2 linked regions of the Homo sapiens genome follow. The protein of the gene in region 2 interacts with the protein of the main gene of each other region in a pairwise test. Each region holds a gene or a part of one and is shown on either strand. Other genes may lie near its edges. The genes, in order: POU2F1 and SNX24.

Evidence for each region.
Region 1: the proteins of SNX24 (region 2) and POU2F1 interact in binary tests that used the Homo sapiens proteins (3 or more experiments, as listed by UniProt).

Annotation. Positions count from the first base shown.
Region 1 is NC_000001.11:167,412,364-167,416,385, reverse strand, and holds part of POU2F1 (POU domain, class 2, transcription factor 1), read right to left. Parts: intron 3,361-4,022; coding exon 3,272-3,360; intron 2,525-3,271; coding exon of another isoform or gene 2,508-2,524; exon of another isoform or gene 887-2,507; coding exon 576-886; 3' UTR 1-575. UniProt on the Homo sapiens protein: Transcription factor that binds to the octamer motif (5'-ATTTGCAT-3') and activates the promoters of the genes for some small nuclear RNAs (snRNA) and of genes such as those for histone H2B and immunoglobulins.
Region 2 is NC_000005.10:122,844,211-122,848,412, reverse strand, and holds the start of SNX24 (sorting nexin-24), read right to left. Parts: upstream 2,801-4,202; 5' UTR 2,780-2,800; coding exon 2,720-2,779; intron 1-2,719. UniProt on the Homo sapiens protein: May be involved in several stages of intracellular trafficking.

The sequences.
Region 1 (4,022 bases), on a different chromosome or scaffold from region 2:
TAATAATACAGTAATACAGGCCTGCCTAAATTGTACCAGTTAAGAAAGGAACCCCCAACACAATTGATACGATTATAAACACCTTGTTATGACTTAATGGCCTGTACAACAGACCCATAAAAATGATTTTTTTTTTTTAAGAAAAAAAGAAATTTAGACAAACAAGAAATCCCCTTCCTATATTGGAATTGGTAACCCACCTTAACTTGTCATCATGACTGCTGGAAATGATAAGTAGTCCTTTCACTTATTTTTGTTTGTTTTTGATTTTTTTGTTTCTTTTTTTTTTTTTTTTTTTAATTTTTGGTTAGAAAGTTCTCCAATCCATGAAGCAATCCTGAAAAGACAGTGTTTTATTACAAAATTAGGCAAATGTTCCGTCTCCATCCTTTCTTTCTTTTTCTGGTATGTGTGTATGGGTGTGTGTGGTTTTTTTTTTTTTTTCTCCCTTCTCTCCTTTGCCCTCACAACACGGCGAGAGGAAGCCAATCACATTTTTCAGTTTATTAACCTGGCTGGCAGTCCAATCACACTGCAGAGTGAAAAAGGCTTCTGGCAGCCCAGCTCTGCCCAGCTCACTGTGCCTTGGAGGCGGTGGTGGTGGTGGACGCAGCCCCGCTGGCAGAGGCCACTGTGAAGAGAGAGTTCTGGATGGACTCAGCAGAGGTGGAGGTGGCGTGAAGGCTGGCTACAGGTGCAGAGTTCCCTGCAGATGCTGCGGCGGCAGAGACCAAGCTAACAGGGTTGCTGGTGAGCAGAGAGAGGTTCTGAGGGTTCAGGAACAGAGGGGCAGTCACGATGTTGGGGGCTCCTCCCGCATTGGCAAATACCAGGTTCCCAGTTGCATCAAGTGATGTTATTGGAAGAGAGCCACCAGAAGCAAGAGCTACAGACAAAAACCCCCCAAAACAGGCAGGAATGAAAACATTAACATCATCCTGGAGAAGCCAAATAACACATCAAAAGTCTATCATTTTCCTACAACCCACCAGGAAAAAGTATAGCCCTTCACTGAATTTTTTTCCTCAAACACAGTGCTATATTGATACCAATTGTAGTTTATTTTTAATTTTGAAGAGCCTAAAAGACTGAAATGTCTAATTTAATGGGCACAAGCAGGGGTAGAAGACAGCTAATAACTGTCTAATGAATTAGAGTCATGTTCGTGTCTTGAAATCACCAGTTTATTTCATTTACCTAGACATATTTGATAAATCCAATAATTTTGTCTTTAATGAAGACTGCTGATTTTAAACTACCTCTGTTCAAAGGACAAACTAGCTGAAGTGATTAAAGCATTAACAACAGGAGGTGAGTGGTGGGCATTACAGCCTGAGGCCTGCCTCCTGTTAGATCAGTGGCGGCATTAGATTCTCATAGAGCACGATCTGAGGTGGAAACAGTGTCATCCAGAAACCACGCCACCACAATGTGGCTATGGAAAAACTGTCTTCCAGAAAACCAGTCCCTGGTGCCAAAAAGGTTGGGGACCACTGCTTTATATTATGATATACAAGATGAAAATCATCTTGCAAAAAGGCTTTAGTTCTAAAATAAATTATGTATCACCAAATAAAGTTAAAAGGTATAATTAATTTCTCACTTCCTGAGGCTAAATACTTGATTTCTATGACTTGTGCAAAGGAGAATGATGAATCTATTGTAGCAGGAAATTAGACATAATGATGTAGGTGGGTGATCTAAGTCTAGGATGTGCTTTAATGGGTGAGAAATTTTCTATGATGCTGTTGCTTCCCCAAAGAAGGCATCATCAACATTTTATTTAAAATAATCGAGACTCTCATTTAGTATCTCAACCTGTTGTCTGGCAACATTCCTAAATCTCTCTAGCCATATAACCTCACTCCTACATGTAGATTTGAGGGATTTTCTAACGGCATTACACATTTGATTTCTTACATAAAATATAGCTGAAGGGAATGCCTCTGACTTTGGCCTTGCTCATACAAATAGTACAGAACAGTGAGACAGTGCAGCTTGAAGTTTTTCTGAGATTCCAAACTTAGTATCTTTTCAGAGTGTCAATCATGCCCTAGGGAAGACATTTTGCCTTTGTAGTATCAACACAGCACAGAAACATTCAATAAAGCAGAAGAAAAAGTGATTTATCACAAATTCTATTGCAAAAAAAAATTATTATATAACAAAAGCTTTAGAGCTAACCAATTCAGGTATGATTTAGTCAATCAGAAAGTCAATATAATGTAAGGTAATCTAGGCCATGGTTTGGTTTTGTCTGTAATTAACATTCTCTAGTACACTGTTAGAGATATTACCTGTGAAATATTAATCTTAATTTAGGTTGGCTAATAGTTATTTTTGGCCCTGAGAATTCTCATTTATGCACAAAACACTTTAATTTTTTTTTTTTTTTTTTAGAAACAGGGTCTTACTGTGTTACCCACGCTGGGGTGCAATGGTTATTCACAGGCATGATCATAGCACACTGCAGTCTTGAACTCATGGCCTCAAGTGATCCTCCTGCCTCAGCCTCTTAGCAAAACTATTTTAAGAAAAAAATTCTAATTAATTAGTGATGTCTCTCAAATTGTCTCCCTGAATCACATAACAGTAAACATTTTTAGACAGAAAGCTTAGGTACTAAACAAGTGGAACCCTTCAGTATATGGAATGAATATTGCCCTGGGTAACATGCTAAAAGGCAAAAGGAACCCAGCTGAGCTTGGAAAAGAGACATTATAATCCAAGAGAATATATGTTCTACACTAACGGCGATATAAAAAGAGCAGAACTTAATGAGAATTAAAAGCACTCCTGAGGTCCACCTGATGTGTTCCAATGTTTGTTCATTACAGGACTTTCCCATGCACAGCTTTCTCAGGAGTGCAGCTGGGAACTGGAGAGTCTTACTTGGTCAAGTTTGCCTAGAGACGGGTTTTAGATTAATACTTGGGATAAACTTATCAGGGGAAAAAAATCTGGCTTCAAGTCTACTCACATAAGATCAATATTAGCATGAAAGTTCTGGTTTTTTACCATATACCAAACTAAGTATATTTCCTGCTTTTACTCACATACTAACACCTATACTTTTCTTACAAAGCTTTTTTACGAGGACATTTTCTTAGTTCTCAAGAACAAGTTAGTCAGCATTTGACTCTTTCCCATCACTTTTACCTCTAGCAAAGCAGACTTCCTCTATCTCTGTCTCAAGCACACACACACACACACACACACACACTCACACACACGTGCATGCCACCAAATTAAGAAAAAGGCTTCTACTGACCTTGAATAGTTGCCAGTGTACTGTTGCTCATTAGAGCTGGGCTGAGAGCACCGCTCAGGGTCCCTGGATTCAGACTGAGTAAGGCACCTCTGCAAGTCCAAAAGAGGAGTCACTTTATTACCATGCAGACGCAGGTCTCATTTTGACAACACACCAAAAGGAACTTACAAAACGAAAATCCAGCTGGGGAAATAGGTGGAAATATTTATTTTTCTTTACTCTTCTATGGTTTGTGCTTCTCAGTTACTGCTTTCCTGGATGCTTACTCATACAAACGAGGTTATGATCAGCACAAAATGTAAAACTTTTATAGTCATTTTGACCCTTCTTTGAAAGACTTATTTCTCTTTCTTTCCAAAATGAAAGAAACATTCTAGAGAAAAAGATATATTTACAAGATAATTCTTATAATGTGTGACAATAACAGTATAAAATTGAGACTCCTATTACATCTCTTATCTATGCTTGAGAATTAGGAAGTAGGCAGTTGAGAGAGTTTAATGGGGAAAATAAGAGTCAAGAATTCTAGGCTTTCTTCCTGGCCCCGTCACTAAGGTAATTAGTGACCTGGTATTTTGGGTCTTCATCTGGAAACAAAGGTATGACTACTGCCCTTCCCAGGGTGTTAAGAAACATAAACTCAACTATAATCAAAGTCCTTGTATGATCACAAAACAGCCCACTTCAAAGAGATTACTGCTTTAAAGACATTTTTTTCCCCATCTAAGTCAGTGATGTAAAGTCTCCCCTG
Region 2 (4,202 bases):
TTTTAAACACAAACACAGGTCGGGCTCAGTGGCCCGCGCCTATAATCCCAGCACTTTGGGAGGTCAAGGTGGGAGGATCCCTTAAACCTAGGAGTTTGAGACTAGCCAGTGCAATATAGTGAGATCCCATCTCTACAAAAAATACAAAAATTAGCCAGTTGTGGTGATTTATGCCTGTGCTACTCAAGAGGCCAAGGGGGAAGGATCACTTGAGCCCAAGAGTCCAAGGCTGCTGTGAGCTAGGATTGCGCCACTGCACTCCAGCCTGGGTGACAGAGCAAGATCCTAGCTCTTAAAAACACACATTCACACAAACATAATCGCTAAAGTAAAAAGATATTTTTTACACGAAAGTGTACATTATTTTACAAGCTTCTTATTTAGGAAACTGAAATATTTTTTAAATTCTGGGGTTTTTTTTAAGCTGCTATATTCATAGCTTATTCACTGCTATATTCCCTACACCCAGAATACAGACACAGAGCAGGCACTCAGTAAATATTTGTTGAATGAAAAACCGCTGTACAATCATAAAACCAGTTGTGCAGAGGGGAAAAGTATCTAATAACTGCTTCACAAACTCACAGAAGCAAAAAAATCCCTTCAGAAGGTATTTTAGGGCTGGGTGTGGTGGCTCATGCCTGTTATCCCAGCACTTTGGGAGGCCTAGGCAGATGGTTTGCTTGAGCACAGGAGTTCAAGACTAGCCTGGGCAACATGGAGAAACCCTGTCTCTACAAAAAATTTAAAAATTATCCAGGAGTGGTGCCATGTGCCTGTAGTCCCAGCTACTCCAGGGGCTGAGGTGGAAGGATTACATGAGCCCAGGAGGCAGAGGTTGCAGTGAGCTGAGATCACCCCACTGCACTCCAGCCTGGGTGACAGAGGAAGACTGTCTCAAAAAAAAAAAGAGAGAGAGAGATTTTAACAGTTTAGCTCCCAATCTGGATGAGTTAGGATTTTTTTTAAGCAAATATTTAAAGAGCAAACTCTCATCACATAAGCAATCTTCAAACTCTCCCGAATTTGTCCAAAAAAGAGCTCCTTCCACATCAGTTTAATTCACAACCTGGAGTGTGGCACATGCCTGGTCATAAATACAAATAATAAAAAGATACATAAAGCTTTGGGAGAAAAGCACAGCTCGTCTAATAGAAGAAAATCAACAATGGGCAATGAGCCTTAATTATGGTCTATTTCAAAGTGCTTATTTCTGCAGGTAATTAACTTTTAGCTTGAACCGGTAAGATCAACTTCATCTTTTCTTTGAAAGCCAACGCCTCTAACAAGCAGCCTTTTTATCTTCAGATCCTAAATGAATGTCCCAAAGATGGTAAGCCCTCCATGACTGTTGATAGTGCTGATGGGAGAAGTGAGATACCTGGGAGAAGCAACAACAAGCAAGGTTTTAGGCTTAAGAGACTTGGATAAAATCTCCAAGAAAAAAAAAAAAAAGCCTTGAACAAACTCGAGGGTTTGTTTGTTTGTTTTTAAGGAAGATACAGACTATTTAACGAAATGTGAATGCACTGGAAAGGATTATTTATATAAATAACTACCACTATGGAACACAGCTCCCTCTCCCTGCATTTTCCTTCCCAAGGAAAGCACTTTAACAACTTGTTTCAGAACACTTGGATCCAGCAGTCTACTCAATTCTAAAAACCCACCGACTTCCTGGACTATTTTTTCAATCACTGTTTTTCATTCTAAATCTTCCTTTGAGAGGGTAATTTAGTCCCAACTAAGAAAACACAATGGCCCAAACAGACTGTCACCAAATACCAGTAATATTTAGAGGAGGGGAGAGGGGTTAAAATATTCTCCATCAAAGTAATGTAACTGGTGTTTAGCAAGTGTGTGATTGATGTAAATAAAATAACAAATCTTTCAGACTGCCCTGCAATCTTTCTTCAACCCTACAGGTTCTTTAACAACTGGAAGTAAATTCTTCCAAGGTGTACACACACTCAGACATTTCTCCCACTAGCAATGACTGTCCAGGAAAGAATGTTTTGAATTCATTGGGAAATCTCCACCAACAATTCACTTAGTAAACGTGTTGCTCAAAGGGCCCATGCCCTGGTCTCTGCCCTCCCCTTCACTCTTGAGAGCAGGGGTCCTGTTTCACACTTCTCGGTGACCACAGTCCTAGGTATGAAACAGGTGCTCAGCAAGTAATTTTGCCATTTCATGGAACTGCACAACTCAAAAAGAAAAATCTTTGGAAATCATCTAAAATCAATACACGTGTTTAGTTTGGCTAATAAACAGCTGCAAATTATGATTTAAAAAAAAAAAACAGGTTTTCCAGCTGAACTAATTGTACAGAACTTGGAAGCCAGCGTGAATCTGCCGCGAAGCTACTACTGTCTGGACTGAGGGGGCAGCTGTGCCAGAAAGGAACGCAGCCCATCCTGGGCTCCCGAAGGCGGGCGGCGGGGAGAATGGCTAGTGCCGCGTCCGAGGACTGCAGCTCGTCCGGGAGGAGAGGGTTGGACCCCGAGGGGCTAGGGGCGCCCGCAGCCGCCGTGCCCGGGAGGGGCGCCCGTTTCCTTGACAACCGCGCCAAGGGCGCAGCCCTTCCTCTGGGCCGGGGGAGGGGAGAGAAAACGAGGGGACCCCCTGCGCCAAGGCGGCGGCGGCCAAGGGTGTTTCCTGGGCGCAGCAGCCGCAGGCCTGGCTCGCGGGGCCCTGTCCGCCCGCGGCCCGCGCCTACCGTGTATCCCCGCTCCAGGTCGCTCTCTTCATAGCGAAAGGACGGGATGTAGACCTCCATGGCCGCGCCGGCCAGCCGGCTGAGGGCGAGTTGGGGGCAGGCTCACGGCCGCGGCCGCCGCTCCGCCCACGGCCGGGCCGCCCCGCCTCCCGCCCCGCTGCGCCCGCGGGGCCCCGAGGCTGCGGGCCGGACTCAGGTCTGCGGGCTGACCCGGCCGCTCCCGCGCCCTGGGCGTGCCGGGGGCCGGAAGCAGAGGGCGCAGGGCTCCAGGCGCCTGGGTTTCGGGCCTAACGGGCGGTGGAGATCAGCTGGGCCCGAAAGAGGCGGGGCCAGAAAACCTGAGTCTGCAGAAACGGGGTGTGCGCGCCAACGCGCTGGGCGCGGGGACTGGGCCGCACCCGGCGCTCCCTGCCCTGCGGACTCCGGCTGGAGCTTGATTTGCAGTTTGCTAGACGCCACCATTAAGAGATTGCCAGACAGCAAAGAATAGAAAGAGTGGCGCTTTTAACTTTTGTTTTGGTTGGTTGAATTTTTTTTTTCCCTCTCGGCTGGCATTAACAGCGGTGAACCAGCCGGCTTATACCAAGACTCTCCGAATTCCCTTCGATTCGAAGGTCAGCGTCTCCTGAGTTAGACGTCGAATCTGAGAATGGTGGTGTACCACAGAGCTCGAAAGTGAGCCCGAAAGTTGGCCGGTCACTAAGACAAACGCTCTGGCTTCACGCTGCAGTTCTAAAATGCCGCCTTTAACTGTGAAGTACTTTTTAACTGTGAGGGAAAAATAGAATACGGAAAAAAAAAGGACTGAACCCGTGCCTCGGACCAGGGTCTAGTAGGCTGAAGGTACCTAAAAGATTAAGTGTCCCGGCGGGGGAGGCTTGATTATCAAGTTAGTCAAGTAAACGTTGGGTTTCTTCTTTAGGTTAGCGCACCGAGCAGAATAGAAACGTGGACGTGACTTGTAGGTCACTGAGAAGTGACCTCAGCCATCCAGGAAAAAACCAGCCAGCGAGCTTTCTTGGACTGTAAACAATTGCACTTAACTCCGTTTGTCCTTGAGTGCAGAGGACATTTCAGCTTAGCAAACTCTAGACTTTATGATGGGACCCTGAGCCGTGCAACAGAGGGATAAGGCAGCTTCTCGTTTTAGGAACTTACCTGATGTGGACCCCTCTACATTAGTCTCATCTGAAGATCCGTCCTCCTAACCCAGCACTCACACATTTGCAGCTCCAGGATGTGCCCTTCTCTCAAAACTGTGCCTTAGCTGTGCCCTGTGACTACACACCTTTCTTTCACTTCTGGCCAGCACCTCCTGAGGTAACTAACCAGCTCTGCGGACGATAAGCTATCTGAGTTCAGAGCCCAGCTTGTAGGTTACCTTAAGCCTCTGGTGACTATACACTGTATGTATGATTTATTTATCTACCCTACCTACTAGGTTTTAGGGCAAGCATGCTTTTAAAAACTCGTCATCTCGTGG